Regions from separate parts of the Homo sapiens genome. Here region 1 is linked to region 2. Evidence: fine-mapped expression QTL. A gene starts in region 2. The other region holds a variant in brackets. All regions are shown on one strand. Distances are between the middles of the regions. Region 1 overlaps LOC105376360 (a long non-coding RNA gene). Region 2 holds the start of KLF6 (KLF transcription factor 6).

Evidence for each region.
Region 1: its variant is fine-mapped to the expression of KLF6 in whole blood (TOPMed, PIP above 0.99).

What each region holds. Positions count from the first base shown.
Region 1 is chr10:3,664,725-3,673,762 of GRCh38, reverse strand. All of the region lies in intron 1 of LOC105376360 (a long non-coding RNA gene), which reads right to left. Among named protein-coding and RNA genes, the nearest start is that of KLF6, 120 kb to the left of the region's middle. RefSeq lists an enhancer at 4,919-5,420. The variant T/C (reference allele first, on the strand shown) is at 4,611.
Region 2 is chr10:3,780,711-3,789,748 of GRCh38, reverse strand. It overlaps KLF6 (KLF transcription factor 6), which reads left to right and starts at 4,540. Exons shown (of 4, transcript NM_001300.6): 1 at 4,540-4,836; 2 at 7,535-8,108. The coding sequence starts at 4,735. RefSeq lists silencers at 3,631-3,690, 3,871-4,150, 4,401-5,000, a promoter at 3,802-4,739 and enhancers at 4,606-5,161, 5,162-5,718, 5,719-6,274, 6,343-6,412, 6,573-6,642 and 1 more.

The sequences.
Region 1 (9,038 bases), 120 kb after region 2:
ACATTGTAAGGAATATTAATCAATGGCATTTCTATCTTCTTTATCTAATCTTTTTATAAAGATAATTAATTAATAAAATAGGTTCAAAAGTAATCCCCTTTACAAGATTTTCCACAACTTTTTGAAAGAGCTTACATAAAACTGGTATTGTTTCTTCTCAAAGTTTTTACAGAACCCACTGATAAATCAATCTAGGTCTGGACTCTTCTTCATCAAAAATTTTAAATTAAGAAGCCAATTTAAAAAATAAATCTAGAGCTAGTCATAGTTTCTATTACTTCTTGTGTCAGTTTTTGATAACGTGTCTTTCAAGTAATTTCTCAATTTTATCTAAAATTGTTGAATCTATTGGCATAATGCCTACATATTTCTTTGTATTTCTTCTAGGTATATTAAGTAGTTATGTTATTGTAGTTTGCAACAGATCACTAACTTCTTGACAAAAGGAAAGGGTGAAGAAACTTACAGATTCAGATTTTATTTTATTTTTTTGAGATGGAGTCTCACTCTGTCACCCAGGCTGGCGTGCAGTGGTGCGATCTCGGCTCACTGCAAACTCCGCCTCCTGGGTTCAGGCCATTCTCCTGCCTCAGCCTCCCAAGTAGCTGGGACTACAGGCGCCTGCCGTCAAGCCCAGCTAATTTTTTTGTATTTAAAGTAGAGACGGGGTTTCACCATGTTAGCCAGGATGGTCTCGACCTCCTGACCTCATGATCCACCTACCTCAGCCTCCCAAAGTGCTGGGATTACAGGCGTGAGCCACTGTGCCTGGCCTAGATTCAGATTTTAAAAGAAATTACCAGTTAAAAGTCAATTTGAAATTTTCATTTCTGAAAATTGTTTGTAAATCAATTAAATAAATAGGATTCAGGCTGGGCATGGTGGCTCACGCCTGTAATTCCAGCACTTTGGGAGGCCGAGATGGGTGGATCACTTGAGGCTAAGAGTTTGAGACCAGCCTGGGCAACATAGTGAAACCTCATCTCTACTAAAAATACAAAAATTAGCCAGATGTGGTGGCAGGTGCCTGTAATCTTAGCTACTCAGGAGGCTGAGGCAGGAGAATTGCTTGAACCCGGGAGATGGAGCTTGTGATAAGCTGGGATCGCAGCACTGCACTCCAGCCTGGGTGACAGAGCAAGACTCTGTCTCAAATAAAAATTAAAAAAAAATAGGATTTTGTTTGCAAGAAGTTTTGTGAAGATAAAAAAAGACAGTGAAGAAGGACACTGCAGGACGGATGCTGCATTCCGGGAAACAGCCTGAGTCGCAGAAGCTGGTTGCATGGTCTGCTCACCAGTTTAACTGAATTACAGGAATCTGGTGTAGTGCTAGTGGGAGACAGTGCCAAAAAGAAAGACGTGAATCAGACATAGAAAGCTGCAGTGACCAGGCCAGAGCATCAGAGCAAACTCCACCATCAGTGAGGACCTCTGCAGGCAGTGGTTATGCCTTGGGGACAGTGATAATTTGTTCTATAGATACAGAACCATACGCATTTTGTAGGACAGTGTGCCCCAAATAGTGGTGTGCCCAGAGATTAATTCAATGGCATCTAAATGCATATTTTTATTTTAATATTTATGTGTTCACTTTAGTGGATACAATAAATACACAACATACACACAAATCATGCTATTTAAAGAAAAAAATTGATTCATGTATAGCACCAATAATGAACAAGTATGGCTAAAAGAGAAAATCATGATGGTGACAAGAAGACGGCACTTCAGGGGCTTGAGTGCACTGACTTTCAGCTACTCCCCAGGAATCAGAGCAATAGTAAAAATGGCTAATATTCACATAAACCTTGCTGTGCATTAGAGACTCGTAGCGGTTCTCACTACAGTCCTATTTGGTAGATGCCACTGTTACCATCTCACAGGTCGGATGCCAGGGAGCAGCGAGGTGAGGGAACCAGCCCTGCAGCCAGCGTGCTCAGGGGCCACGCGTTCAATGACGATTGCTTAACTGCTTTGAATTCCACCCTCCCGAGGTCCCTCCACCACCTCTTCAAGAGGGGAGGAGCTTCTTCCCTTGGATGTTCCCTTCAGAGAAGTCTCTACTTACAGAGCTTTTCTGATTTGTGGGGGGTTTCATGAAAGTGAAATAAATTACAAAACTGGTCTGGAATCTCTTCTTACAGCGCCGTTGTAATCTCTGTGCCAGTAATCCCTTCCCTAAAGGGCCCAGATTATAAATATTGCTCCATGGCACAGCAGGGAACTTCCCTCTAATTTACTGAACTTCCTCTGTCTTTTCTCCTTTCGAGCATTCTTTGTACAGAATCATGTTAAGTACAACAAATAATACAAAATAACAGTGTTGTCCACAGCTACAATGTAAAACCAATTTCTCTGCTCCACCCCACGGTCCTTATCATTCCCATGCCCATGGCACCCAGTGCCATGTACTTGCTGCTTTAAAAGGGCATCACATTGTCCATGGGAGCTACGGATGCTGGAGGTATTCCTGTCCCAGCTCTGGATGAGAATGTTTCTGGGAGTCCGTCCAGCCCTGAGTCCCCCAGACCCCCAGATAGTTCTCCAGAGACAGCCTCTCAGGAGTGCCCTGGCTGTCCTGGGCCTCAACTGCCTGGCTAGGGCCATGATCCAGGTGGACACCTAAGCCATTGTGAGCCAGTGGATCTTCTGTCCTAGAAATCAGGAATCAGCACTGGGTGACTTGGCGTCCTGCACTAGGGCACGTGCAGGCCCTGCTGTGCCACAGGGTGAGCTGTACGATGGGCAAGTCTACGTATGACGTTGACTGATTTGGTGGGAGCATTGGGACAGCAGGGAGAAGGGGACACCAGCTGTAGAGAGAGAGAATAATCTTCAAAACCCCGACAGATTTCCATGTCCCAGTTCCATCTCCTTTGCATCCCCCAGTAAATACCCTTTATTTTTACTTAAGCTGCTCCTTCTTGGCCCCATTGACCCCGTGAGCAGCCACTCCCCGATGGACACCCTAAGCCTTGTGCTCTCTGGGGATAGTGAGTGAATTTTCTACGTTTCATCTTACTGAGACTGGCCGGCAGGTCCCTGACCTCTGGCAAATTCTGCTGCAATGATTATTCTGACTCAGTTTGTTGGTAAAACTGCCTTTTGGTAAGGGAGGGGAAAACATCACAATCCAGATCTCCTTTCTTCCTCTCAACTCCTGCGCAATGTCGTGTTGTCTTTTCTAACTTTTTTCTGCCTGCAACACATTTCATGTGTCCATTCATTTGTTCCTTACTTCCTTTCTTTATTTACACATTCGACAAATACTGATCATATGCCCACTACGTGTTGTTCCAGGGGCATGGGGGATCCACCGAGAACGAAACAAGTGCAAGCCTCTGCCTGGTGGAGTTTGCGTTCTTGTTTGGGGAAACTGACCAAATACAGAAGTCATGAGGAGCAGCCTGTTAGAAGGTGAATGGTGCTGCGGAGGAAAGGAACAGCAGGAAGAAGGACGGAGAGCGGGAGACAGGAGGTGAGGAGGTGGAGAGGCAAGTTACGCAGATACACAGCAAGAGTGCTCCAGGCAGGAGGGGCCCCTGTGAAGGCTGCAGAGCTTGAAGACACACAAGGAGGTGGCTGGATCCAGAAGAGCAGGAGGAGATGTTGTCAGAGGGACGGAGTGGTGGGTTTGTGGGGCATCTGAAGGCCAGTGGGAGGACTTTGGCTTTTGCCCCCAGAGACATGAGGAGGCCTTTGGGAGCGTGGAATAGCAGAGACACATCTGAATCATACTTTCTCTCTTCACTCTGACTGTCATGCGAAGAAGGGGGGTTGGGGTTGAAGGCTACAGAGGGGTGAGGTGAGGAGGTCACGGTGTGCCGGGTGACCCCTCCCAGGGAGGCGGCAGCAAAGGCGCCAAGACCTAGGACTCTGGGTCCTTGTTGCAGGCATATCTAGAGGGATGATTGTGACGGCAAGAAGGCAAGGCTGGCAGGGAGAACACGTCCAACCTCATATCCCCTCTGTGATGGTGTGAAAAGGTCAGACCAGCGATAGGCTTGGGCGCCATATCAGTGTCTTCCTCTAGTAAATAACGGAGACAGCGGCAAGCAGTTCCATGTGCATGTGGTTCTTAGCACCCACATACCTAACCTGACTTTTCATGTATTTATTTTTGTTGAGACAGAATTTCGCTCTGGTTACCCAGGCTGGAGTGCAATGATGCGATCTCAGCTCACTGCAACCTCTGCCTCCTGGGTTCAAGTGATTCTCCTGCCTCAGCCTCCCGAGTAGCTGGGATTACAGGTGCCCGCCACCACACGCGGCTAGTGTTGTATTTTTAGTAGAGACGGGATTTCACCGTGTTGGCCAGGCTGGTTTGATTCTCACTTTGATTTATTTGAGGAAGCTTGTATTATCATTCCAATTTAGAGATGAAGAAACGGGGAAAAGAGTTTAGTTGAGTTGCCCAAGGGGACATAATTTGGATATGATGTCACAATTTAAACCCAATGTGAGGAGCATCTTGCAGAGTTGCTGTGAATAGCGAAGAAAAATGCAAGCGACTTCAGGGTTTGAAAATATTATATGAGTTTGTACGAAGATGTGCTATTTACAAAACACGCTTGTTTCTCAAGCCTTATTTAGCAATGCTAGGTATGT[T/C]TTTTTCTGATAGCAGTAAGAACAGGAAGGAACAGATGAACAAAGAGACCACAGGCACATTTGATGTGTAGTATTTCCATCTTTGGGGATGTTACAGCTATGTGACTATCTATTTAATTCTACATTAACATAACTTTATTTGACTCAGAAAATCAATAGACTATTTTTCCAGGCTGCAGTTTGGCAACAACCTATGGCCTGAGAATCGAATGACTTAAGATCCATCCTGGCTTCCCCGCCGGCTGAAGTGCAGCCTCTGGGCAGGCGACCCGCAGAGTTAGAGCCATCTGAGTCCCGGGCCAGCCTCACCTCCAGAAGGTGATGCCTGCTCTTTGTTTTCAGACCACACAACACACACAGGGGCGGGGCTTTGCAGAGCGCTCTGGCCTCCAACACGTATCACCTATACGCTAAACAGTTACTTTTCCTGTATTGTGTAACTTACCCAGAAACTTGCGTTCAGCAAGCCTCCGGGGATAAAAATACAATCCTACCGTGTAAAAATATCCTTTCTTCTCGGATTTTCTCTACCCCTTCTAGAGTTTCCCCCAGGGCAGATGCAAGGGGGCACTCTCCTGGGCCTCAGCCTGCCTGGTCTCCCTGAACTGAAGCCTGCTCGACAACAGTACGGGATTGCACAACACCCCCGCTCAGCTCCAGCCCCCGATCTGGAAGCTGCTGAAGAGAGAGATACCTCGACTTTTATCTGATTCTCCAACTCTCCGCATTCCAGAAAAGCAACTCAAGATCTAATTTGCTTAGTCATTTAGTTGAAACTGCAGTAAGAGAGGTGGCAGAGAAAGTGAAGCAGTAGCCAAATTAGATAAGGAAAAAAAAAAGTGAAAACATGTTTCGTTTTGTTTTTTTAAGATTCAAATAAAAACCATGATTTATTTATTTATTTATTTATTTTTTATTGCTCAGGATTAATTTCCCTGCTGTTTAAAATGTCCACAAAAGGCTGGGCACGGTGGCTCACGCCCGTAATCCCAGCACTTTGGGAGGCCAAGGTGGGTGGATCACGAGGTCAGGAGATCAAGACCAGTCTGGCCAACACGGTGAAACCTCGTCTCTACTAAAAATACAAAAATTAGCCGGGCATGGTGGTGGGTGCCTGTCATGGCAGGAGAATCACTTGAACCCGGGAAGCAAAGGTTCCAGTGAGCTGAGATGATGCCACCACACTCCAGCCTGGGTGACAGAGCGAGACTCCATCTCAGAAAAGAAAAATGTCCACAATATGCAGTTATGGGACAGAAATGACCCTGTCCACCTCTGTATTCATTCCTTCATTCTCCTTTCACTCGGAGGGCGAGTATAAAGTCCTCGCAGTACATGGTGCCCTGGAATAGAGACTGCATTTCCATGGAGATTTAGGGGAAAATGCCAATTAGTGTCTGAATCTTCTTATCACCGCTCAATGTAATGAAACGAAACAGGCATTCCCCAAGTGCCCATGGTACCTATGCAACGCCAACCCCTAGTTTGGGTAGAGCAGAAAAAATTCTGAGAACAGAAAAACCAAGTGTCTGTCCAAATGGTTTGTTATAAGAGAACAAACTTCACTTTCTGCCTCGACGACTTGTGGGCACGCAGAGAGGAGGCTACCAGGAATCTTCTGCTGTGGATTTTCACCTGAGCTGTAAGTGTGAGCACCTCCCTCCTTAGTGCTCGGACTTGGAACAATCAAACCTTGGGCTCTCCGGCATCACAGAGACAAGAAAAGCTTTTCTCTGTTGGGTAAATTATTAATCGTGGCACTGTATCCCCCTTGACATCAATAAAGTCACGACAATCAATTTGTCATGGTCCAGTGTGTGCTCATGACCGACTTGCCCTGTAATGTAGGTCAAACTTGGATTTGATGCTCTGATAACCAGAGACGTGGGATGAAAGTGGGGTTTCTCCTGGTCTGGCAGAACATGGCTTCCATGTCTGAAGCTTCCAGGAGGCAAAGCACATCGGCAGAGCAGGGAGCTCAGCCCTCGACGCGGGGCAGAAGAGCCACAATGCAGGAACTTACTATCCACAGTCACTACCACGCCGCTGTGGTTGCACCCAGGGAAGGAAGTGGAGAGAAAGGCACGGCTGGCTTGGAACTCCTGCTTCTGGTTCCGTTTTGCTGCATCAATAGGTGAAAAATAACTTTTTTTTTCCTCTAAGGAGAGAGTATCAGAATAGAAATAGTGTATCCTCCAAATATATTTCAGAAACAGGGAAAAAAGGAAAAATGCTTAATCAATTTCTCTTAAAAAAGAAAAAGAAAAAGAAAAAGAAGCAGCAGCCAGCAGGCAAGTGCGGTTAAGAGTGACTGAGCTGGCTTTTCCCCTCTGCCAGGCTGCCTACCTGTGTGGGTTGGAGCCAGCCCTGCAGTGCAAAGCTGGGTGGGCAGAGCCTACCTACTCCTTTTCAGCAGCAAGCCTTGTGAATGGCCCGGCCGGGGCAAATAAGCCAGGTGACTGTGGTGAAGCTTCCTGGGCATCCACCTGCCCCCATCTGCCGTGTTCCCTGCACTTTGAGGCTTCCAGGTGTACAGCTATTTGAAGCCACTCAGACACCAGGGTTTGCCTCCATCTGCCGTCCTGGGGAGACACTGGCTGCTCCTGACATGGGTGCTGGGTCTGCCTGGAACAGCCAGAGGCGTGGCCTCACCAGCATCCTCTGAGCTGGGTGAGCTGCAGGCAGGGACTCTTCTGCAGCCAGTCCCGAAAAGAGCAGGACACGCCTGTGGGAATGGCGCGGGTCTTCCACACCGAGTCTCTGTGCATTGTCCGAGACCACCTCCACGGGGGGAACGGCTCGGGAGTCAGGCATTGTCCGAGACCTCCTCCACGGGGGGAACGGCTCGGGAGTCAGCCAGACTGGGTTCAAGTCCGGGTCACCACTTAGCAACTGTGTGTTTTGGGCAGTTTATTTAATCCTGTGTGTCTCAGTGTCCTCATCCGTGAGACAGGCACCTTGATGTGCGCAAAGGTTAGTTGAGATAATATGAGAACTCCCAGGCTGAGGGTATTTCAGTGACCATGGCTGAATAATCAGCATCCAGGGGCCCAGAACTACAGGTCACAAACATGCACCGTATTCTGCTCACGGGTTCTGTAGCCAGGAGCTCCCGCACGCACAGAGCGACCACTTCTCTCTGGTCCTCAGGGTCTGGTGGCCCCAGGGCCAGGGCTGGAGTCTTCCGCAGGAAACTGCCCACCTCACTCATGGCTGCAGGATGCTGCTATTGTCTGGGACCTCAGCTCGGCTGCATCATGTCCCCCAAAATCCAAATCCATGTGCAGACGTCCTGTCCCCCAGTGCCTGAGAATGGGACTGTTTGGAGACGGGGGGCTTTAAAGAGGTGATTAAGGTGAGGTGAGGTCACTAGGGTGGACTCTAGTCCCATCTGGCTGGTGTCTTTGGAAGGAGAGATTAGGGCACAGACACAGGCAGAGGGGTGACCCTGTGAGGCCATGGCAAGAAGGCGGCCGTCTGAAGCTGCAGAGAGAGGCTTCCGGAGGAAGCAACTCTGAGGACACCTTTATCTTGGACTCCCAGACTCCAGAATTATGAGAATACAGGTTCCTATCTTTGAAGCCTCCCGGCCTGTGATGTGTTGCCGTGGCAGCCTGGCCGACTCTCACTGGGGGACACTGGGAGCGCCCTCTCCATGGCCTTGGCTCCCACTGGCTCGGTTCAAGAGGCCAAGTGATGTCTGCGTGGGGCGTCAGGGCCCACAGCTCACGTGCTGTCAACAAGGCAGACACTGCAGCATCTCTCACCTGCCTGGGGTAGCTCAGCCTCTCGTGCCACCATGACTGTGAGCCATGAGCCCTCCCAAATGCAAGGGGTGAGTGGTCCAAGGCTGCGTCTTGATGGGGGAGGGGGCGTTTCCAGAAGAGAATGTGGGACAGGGATGACTGAGGCCAGTTTCAGAAAACCGTGCCTGGCATGGAGGTTTATGTCATAAGCATTATTTATGACATAAGGCAAATAGACCACAGAGCCTTTTCCTCCCAGGCTGGGCGGTATCTGGGGATGCTCACTGCTCCGTAGTCGCCTCGGGGTCCATCCGTGTCATCACAATCGACAGGATTTCCTTCATTTCATGGCTGAAAAGTATTCACACACTTCTTCCTGGGCTCCAGCAGTGGTGGCACCTTGGCACCTCCCTTGAGAAAGGTTTAAGCTGCACCTCGGACCAGCTGCCTCATGCTGAGACTATGCTGGTCAGTGCTACCATCGGTGTGTGGCCACCTGATGCCAGTGGAAAGCCCTAGGAGCCCACATCCCAGGAGCAGAAGCCGCAGTCTCCTCGCTGCACCCCGTGTGCTCAAAGGAGCGATCCTGAAACACCCTCCAGACGCCACTACATGCAAAGCTCGTTGTGCTTCAATAAAGGCCCCGGCAGCATCCATCAGGAGATCTCTGAACAGCCTCAGG
Region 2 (9,038 bases):
AGTGATCAAGAACTTTCCAAGATTTAATGAAATACAATAAACCACAGATACAAGACCTCAGTAAACCACACAGGGATAGGTTTAGTACCTTTTTGAAAATTTTTTTTTAAAAGTGTATAAGAATGATGGTATTTCTGAGCTCTATATTCTGTTATATTGATTTAACTGTATCAAAGCCAATGTCACACAATCACGTTCAATTTTGCTTTAAGTCTTGAAACACATAATATAAAACTTTCAACCTTCAGGACTGGTTTAGGTATAGCTCTCTTCAGCATTTCCTATACATTTTTAAATCAGCAGGACAACTTCAACAAAAAAGCCTGCTGAGATTTTGATGGGAAGTGTGTGGAATGCACAGACCACCTTGTAAAGAATGGGTATCTTAACCACACACGTGGTATAGCTTGTACCTGTGGATATTTCACAGGGAGCTCCTTCTGGAGGCCCTATTGTGAACTGAGCTTTACAGCTGTCCCATTTTACAATTATATTTTAAAAGAGGGCTACTAAAACAAAGGTCTTAGATAGACAGAAGTTCTCCCCGACCAATGCCCCAGAGGTATCCTGTCATTGTACTTATTACCTTGCCTATGTTGACAGTAAAATTCAACATCTTTTGAAAACTATCAATAGGGCATTTTCCTTCATTATTCTAAGCAAAAATGGTTAAAAAGTGAATCTACTACACCTTACATGTTATGTAAAAACGCTAGGGAGAGAAAAGGCAACTCACTATTTAGATAGAACTATCTGCAAATGAGATAATTGAGAAATGAACATCACAGGGCCAGGCGCAGTGGCTCATGCCTGTAATCAAGCAATTTGAGAGGCAGAGGCAGCCGATCACTTGAGGTCAGGAGTTCAAGAACAGCATGGCCAACATGGTAAAACCCCATCTCCACTAAAAACACAAAAATTAGCCAGGCGTGGTGGTGCATTCCTGGAATCCCAGCTACTTGGGAGGCTGAGGAAGGAGAATTGCTTGAACCCAGGAGGCAGACGTTGCAGTGAGCCAAGATTGTGCCACTACACTCTAGCCTGGGCAACAGAGGGAGACTCCATCTCAAAAAAAAAGGAACATTTTACACTTACATAGGCTCTATCATGTAAATATTCAGAAGTACTTTCTTAACAATTATATTTTGCACACCCAAAATAAACAGATGAAATAAAAGGGTAGTTTGCTCCAAAACAGGCAATATATTGGTACAGACACCAAAACCAAAACAAAACAGAACAACAAAATTGGCTTCTTGCCCCAAAATTGGAGCATTCTCTGTCAATATAATTAGGGGGCATTATTGGAATTATCCTCAGAACAGATTTGTAAGACTTCCCCCAAGAGCCCGTCTTGAATGATCTAGAACAGGAAGATCAAATGTACTCAATACCAACATGTTATCCCATTAATCTTTAAATTAAATTTAAAATTAGGTTTCAAATGTATACTTTTATTTTTGAGAGGCAACAAAGAGAGCTTCCTGGTATGAAATAAATGAGCACAGCCTGGAGGTCTAAGAGGAGAAGAAAAACAGTGGAGGAGGGCATGGAGGCCTAAGTGGGGACTGAGGAAGTAACAGCGGGGTGCCAGGGGGGTGAAGTGGCCCCCAGGAACGTCGAAAGGAGCCTACGACTGTCACCCAGAAGGGATCTTGACCTTTTGAAGATAGTGGCAGAGACAGGAGTGGCTCAAGGTGAGCAGAGAACAAGGGTCACGTCCAACAAATGGAGCTGATTATTTTCTCTCCAAGACTGCGAGAGTGAAAACAGAGCAGGGCTCTTCAGCGACCGGCAGGAGAAGGAAGCACCTGTGGGATTATTGGACAAGTCGAGGTCCAACTCTTGTCTCTGATTTGCTTTGTGGCCTGCAAAGTTGACTTCATTTTTCTGTCTGCATTCACTCATATGTTAAAAGAAGGGTGGGGGATTATAAAATAATTACCAAGAGCAAACTTACAAATGGCTAAATGGTGAATAAGTGAACACTGCCTTCAATTTATTGAATCACTACTATTTGCTACCAAGCAGGAATTTTAATCCATTAACTCTTCTGATTATACTAAACTCATTCTAATAGTCATTTTAATCTCCTATTTAAATAACGTGACCAGGGCCATGCGCACAGCATGGACAACTAAAGTGTAAAATCCATCATCTTTTTATATCCTGCCATACTTCCCCCTTCTGAATTAATCTGGCCCTCTACGATTCTTTGTTGCTCTTCTTAAAAAAATCAGGCGCAACTATTAGTGTTCAGATGCGATGCATATTCTTTGTCACATCAAAGAAAATGATATTTTTTCACCAACTGGTTACATGCTTACTCGTAATAAGGACTTTTGTTTTCAAACATCTACATACTCCTGGCAGCCCACCTCTCCCACACCGTAATAGGGATTTGTGCCTGTTTTGTAAATTTCTGTGTACCAATACCTGGCCATTCATAGGGTGTGAGTAATGTGTGTTCAATGGTCAATGAGCGCAGCAGGATGCCATAGGATCTATTCTATTTGAAATTTAGTGTTCATATGTACCCTGTTTTCAAATCTTTTTTTTTTCTGAAAATGACAATGGCCATTGTACTGTATCTGCATTATGACTAATCAGGTTCCCTCTTGTAAAAATAAACTATATAATCTTCATAGTGCCGGGCAAAGCATGTTAAGAGACAAGGATGAATTTAAGTTCTATAGGAATGTGGATTTATTAAAAAACATTAAGACAATAATTAATTGTCCCAAAGATAAAATGGGACACCCTCACCAGGACGCCCACACGCCTTGCAAAGACAGCCGTCCTGTCCTCCCTGGCCCAGACAGAGCCTTCCCCCTTCATCTCGGGCTCCCCCTGATCCAGCGTGCCTGGCCCTCAGCGGGGGACTTGCTCCACACTCCTGCTTACTTAGGAACTAGCGGGGCCAAGGTCACAAGCGCTAATTACTGAGAGAACCCTGCCCCCAACACAACGGCTGCCCAGATGCTCTCGGCTGCCAGTCACTGGGCCCCGGTCAATGGGCGCTTGGGCAAATCTGTGGATGGTTCAAAACAAAGCCATTTGCATTCCTGGAAACAGAGTTAAGGTGCAGGTCCCCAAGAAGGGCTGGTCCTGGCTCTCAGTTGCTGGGGTAAATGTGATGAACACGAGCCAAGAACACTGTCAATTCACTCTGCATAACCTTCACCGCCCACATACCGCAGGTACAAGACAAACCTCCTTTCTCCACTCCAGACTCACTAAGGTCCCCACCTAGTCTTACAGCCACATGCTTCTGCCGGACCCTCTAAAACTTAACATACAAAACCCTCTAATTTTTTTTTACATAGTCCATTCTTTCAAAATGTTTAATGTTCATTAAACTATTTTGAAACAAAAACTATAATACAGTTACAATTCAGTTTTCCATTTTGGATTTTAAAATGCTCTGGTTCGAGTCTCGACATTTTTCTTAAAAATGAACATTACGGTATATTTTAGGAGATAATTTATATGGAAAAAAACACACACACTAAATGTCGGCTTGCACCTAAATTGTTTACACGTTCATGGGAAAACCTAGCTGTTAACCTTGGTGAGGGCTAAGATCGCCCTCTACAAGATAAACACGTTTCTCCCAATTCCAAGGGGAGCCTGCGTGCTCCCCTCCCCCACTCTGGTGGCCCGGAGGACAGAGGGGACCCTAGGACTGGAGGGGGACGGAGACGGGCTCAGGGATGGAGGGGGACAGAGAGGGACCCGGAGGTGGAGGAGGACAGAGAGGGGTACCCCAAGGTTAGAGAACAGAGGATGACTAGGGGGATGTAGGGAAACAGAGCGGCGCAGAAGAGGACAGTTGGGGACGGGGCGGCCCCGGGCATAGAAGGGGACAGTTGGCGACCGGGAAGCCCCCGGCGTAGAAGGGGACAGTTGGGGACGGGGCGGCCTCGGGCATAGAAGGGGACGGGGGGGAACCGGGCGGCCCCGGGACCGGACGGCCGCCCGCAGGGTGAGCTGCCGGAACCGGGGCTCGCGCGGCGACAGGGCCCGGCTTGGTGACCGGGACGGGCGTGGGGTGGCGGGACCGGGCAGCGGGGAAGAGAGACCGGGACTGGGGACAGGCGACGCGGCCCGCCCCGGCTCTCCCAGCCCCGGCTCCCTTAGCTCCGGCCGCGGGCGCAGTGCAGGGCTCGGCCGCGCACCTCACAGCGCGGACTCCTCCGGCGCGCGGCCGCCCGCGCCTTATATACCCTGCTAAAAATAGCCTGCGAGGCCACTTTCCAATCAGAACGAGCAGAGTTCGAATTGAGCCAATGGTGCGGGCCGTGATGGAGAGTCTCGGTCACGCCAGGCGGGGCCGCTGTGTGTCGCCGCCTGCGATTGGCCGGAGCTGACATCATCGGCGCGCAGCCCCCGGGCCGGGAGCCACGGGATTGGGCCGCGCACGGGGCGGGCGCGGGGCGAGTCACGTGGGGGGAGGGGGAGTGGGGGGAGCCAGGCGGGGGCGGAGGGGGAGGCTGGCAGCGGAGCTTTGAATAGGGAAGTTTTGCAGGGGTTACGTTTGCAGTCAGTCCGGTGTTTGCAAATATTGTGTGGGCTCCGCGCGCTGCGGGCTGCGGGAGGGTCCGGCCGGGCGTCTCTGCGAGCCTGGAGTTTGCATGAAACTTTCACCTGCGCTCCGGGGAGACTTTCGGCTCCGGCTCCCACCGCGCGCCTCGCCGCCCTCGCGACCGCGGGCTCCGTCCAACCCGGCCCGACATGGACGTGCTCCCCATGTGCAGCATCTTCCAGGAGCTCCAGATCGTGCACGAGACCGGCTACTTCTCGGCGCTGCCGTCTCTGGAGGAGTACTGGCAACAGGTAAACGCAGCCGGCCGCGGTTCCCTGCGGGCGCCGGGGCGCGGGCCGGGTCGGCTGTTTGGGGTTCAGACCCGGTGCTCTCTGCGGTCCGCTGGGCCTGGGCCCCGCGCTGTCACCGGGGGAGCGGGCGCAGCGCCCCCGCCGATCGATCCTCCAGGCTGCGATCAGCGTCCGCCCAGGGAAGCCCCAACTCCCGGCACAGCCCGGCCGAGCCCCTGGCACGAGTTCGGAGCCTGTCCCCGCTCCAGACGCCACAGCTGGAGCTTGTCATGGGGACCAACTTGCTCTGCCTGCCAAGGTGTTTTTTTTTTGTTTGTTTGTTTTTTGTTGTTTTTTTTTAACGGATTTTGTTTTTGTTTTGTTTCTTGGTGCTTGTACTTAACAGTTTTTTAAAAAAATCACATTTTGCCCCCAGAACGTAGACCAGCTCTCTTTTATTTTTGTCTTTTTTAAACTGTAGACCATTTCCAATGTGTTTTCTGCTCTTTGGAATGCCTAACATTTCCCCTAGATCTGCCTTATTTGTCTTCCCTGCTTCTCTTGTTGACCAAGAAAAATAAAAATAAAACTGTGTACACCCCAGTGACTTGTCAGTCTTGTGACAATGAGCCCGTCCAAACTGCTTCAAGTCTTAGTTTGGAAAGAAGGACCTCGGTTTCCGACATTGTCGTAGAACTGGAATTTGGGGGCATTGGAAATTTAAGAAACTTACCAGGTCCCCGTGCTTATAGGTAGCATCGCCCGAGGGGAGAGAGACTGACACTCCTCCCATTGTCTCTCCAGCGATCGCAGGAGGGTTTACTGTTGTCTCCCTGCCCTGCTGTGCTGTTTGTTTTTCGTCACAAAGTGAATTGCCAGATCAAATAGAGGCTGTGGGTTTCCAAGCCTCGAAAGCTTTAAGGAAGATGAAATGCAGGGTGTTGCAACCTTCACACGCCTGCTTAATTGTTCACAGTCCTCTCCTGCCTTTTCCCCCTCCCCCTCCTGTTTTTTTCCTCCTCAAAGAAGCTGCTCCCTAGGACGTGATTGAAATTGATCTAAGTAGTTTCCTTCGGGCGTTTGGGATTTGGGCAAACGGCCAGACCTGGCTCTTGGTCGCCTTTGGAGGCTTTTAAACTCTCCGAGAGCTTCGTTCAGGTCCCGGGTGCTCATCAGCGTAATGGAGATTTTAAATTGGCCGGATTATTAAAGTTTAACAAGATCTCCATAAATGTGCTTTTCTTTTTTCTTTGTTAAATCAATAAAATACATCGCTGCTGCCTCTCTTCAGAACGCTGTAGTGTGCATTGTAACTCAGACGCCTGGTTTCGGGGGAAAGGGGAAAGCATGATTCTCCCGTGTGCTTGCTCCCACCGGCTGTGTGCGAGCCTGGGGAGGGGGAGGGATTGCCTGTGGCAGGAGAGAGGCACACTGCTAAGTCAGCCTGAGCCCCTGGGGTAGGCTGCGCTCAGGAAGGTCCCTGCCCGGAAAAATGACGTGCTCACCAGAGCCGTTTGGTGTAGAAACTGAAATCTGTAGAATTGCCAGTAGTATAGACAACCTTATATGGACATGCAGGCAGCTGATCCTCGTGAAAATCAGGGCAGACATAATTTAATCCTAAAATGTTTCCTACCATTTTTCTTTTCCAGTGGCTAGAAAGTTTGAAATGGTGGGGAGAGGGGATGCTGATCTCGGCAGTTGTAGCTTCTTGAAAGGTTGGTTGCGGGGCTGGGGAAGGGGTACTGTCCATGCCACACTGCATGTCCATTTGAGCTGGGTCCTTATTTGGCTGCTGATGAGAATTTCAAAAGGAAGTCTCCTTTGGCATTGCGTGAAAGAAATCAGAGTGATGACTCATGCAGTTGTACTCTTGGCCAGTAGATAAAGTTCTTGTTCATTGTGGGACTCCCAGCAGGGCCGTGGAGTAATTTCCCCTTGCACCCTTCACAATAGCAGATGGCCATGCTGGAATTATTTCTGCACTCCTGTTGTTGAAGTTCCTTGTTTTTCTCTGACCACTGTAGAAGTAATTAAAGTTCTGTGTCATGCAAGGGCCTGCACTTGGGAACGGCATTCTGTGAAAACATAGGCGGTCTGGGCTACACAGGAAATGGGTGGTTTTTCTGCAGCTCCATTCGATGCCCCTGAATACAGACAGCTGCTGTCTCCTCTCCCCCGAGTGTGGCCCTGTGTTGTCAGCCGTGTCCCCAAGGGGGTCCCTCAGAACACGCTGTGTGCCGTGCAGTCTTTCTGTCCTGTGTGGGTATCTGTGGAGTGTGAAGGGTGGATGGCTGGGGCTTTCCTTAAAACACATGGTTCTTGACAATGTCAGATAATCTGGTTGAACCTGTTGGGGAGGAGTATGTGTATGGGGCCGGTTCTCTTCCTCTGGTTTCATGAGAAACATCAACACTGGTAACTACAACAAAAAAACCGGCTTAGTGATCATCACTCATTGTGGCCCTTGGCCCAACATTGGGAAAGCCAGGAGAGGTTTCACCCTCCGACTTTTCCTCTGAATTCTTACCATTCTAGAAACAGATTTCCTCTAACTTCCGTAAGGACACGGATGCTTAATTACAAAAGGTTTTGCCCCTGTAGTGACCGGGCAGCAATGTTATCTGTCCTTCATTCTTGCATGTTTTTGGAAATTGCTTTTGCTTTTACTTTTGGTCGTCATGGCAATCACGTGCCTTCTCTGGTTCATTTTGCACAGACCTGCCTAGAGCTGGAACGTTACCTCCAGAGCGAGCCCTGCTATGTTTCAGCCTCAGAAATCAAATTTGACAGCCAGGAAGATCTGTGGACCAAAATCATTCTGGCTCGGGAGAAAAAGGAGGAATCCGAACTGAAGATATCTTCCAGTCCTCCAGAGGACACTCTCATCAGCCCGAGCTTTTGTTACAACTTAGAGACCAACAGCCTGAACTCAGATGTCAGCAGCGAATCCTCTGACAGCTCCGAGGAACTTTCTCCCACGGCCAAGTTTACCTCCGACCCCATTGGCGAAGTTTTGGTCAGCTCGGGAAAATTGAGCTCCTCTGTCACCTCCACGCCTCCATCTTCTCCGGAACTGAGCAGGGAACCTTCTCAACTGTGGGGTTGCGTGCCCGGGGAGCTGCCCTCGCCAGGGAAGGTGCGCAGCGGGACTTCGGGGAAGCCAGGTGACAAGGGAAATGGCGATGCCTCCCCCGACGGCAGGAGGAGGGTGCACCGGTGCCACTTTAACGGCTGCAGGAAAGTTTACACCAAAAGCTCCCACTTGAAAGCACACCAGCGGACGCACACAGGTCAGTGCCCACGCGGGCCCCGGAGGGCGGCCGCTGGTGGGCGCCACTGCATTGCACCAGCCCTGGAGGGAGCCGGGCCTGGCTGCACAGGATGTGGTCAGGGCAGACAAATCCTCACTTCCTCAGATGTTTTCCACCAAAGCATTAGGTCTTTTTGGAGTTCAGAGTAGAATCCTAAAGACTGGACTTTTGAGTTGGATAAATGTGTAACAATTTTCAGATTAAACAAACAAGAGACTAGATCCTTTTCTCCACGGACACCCAAACCTCCACCCCCCACCCCTTAGTAGTGCTGGGGATCCGAGGCCACTGCCCCTTCACCAGTGCACTCGCACGAGGCTACCTCGAGCGGCCCTGGGGTTTCCTAAATGAAACTCAAGGGTCAGGACAGAGGGTTGCTGGGCAGCGTGGAGTGTGTGGGTTTGATGCTGACGGCCCGAGGCCCGAGTGGGACCGGCCTGCTCTGTAAGCAGCAGCATTGATCAGCGAGTGTTTCCTGAGAACTTCTCCGTGTCTCATGCAGCCTTTGTTTCTGATACCGCTTGAAACAGTTTCTTAATGAAATGCCATACCTAGGTGAAAGTGCTATTTAAAAATACCTTGACATGTTCTAGGATAATTGGTGAGGAATCACAGAACATTTAGAACTGGGAAGGGTCTTAGTGATCACGTGATGCAGGCTCTTCTCTTATCAGTAGGAGAGCAAATTGCTGAGAGTCAGTCCCAGACAGGCTTGGTGACAGCTGAGATTGAGATCCGGGTGGCCCAATATCCAGGCCCAGGCCTGTCTCAACATACCCTGAGATTGGCTTGACAACTTTGTTTTCTCAGGTAGCACTTGTAGTAAATTCATATTTATGATTTGACCAAGGAATGAAGTGAACCCAGTTGTTCAATTGCCATTTAGAGAATGATTCCGGGGCCCTGTAC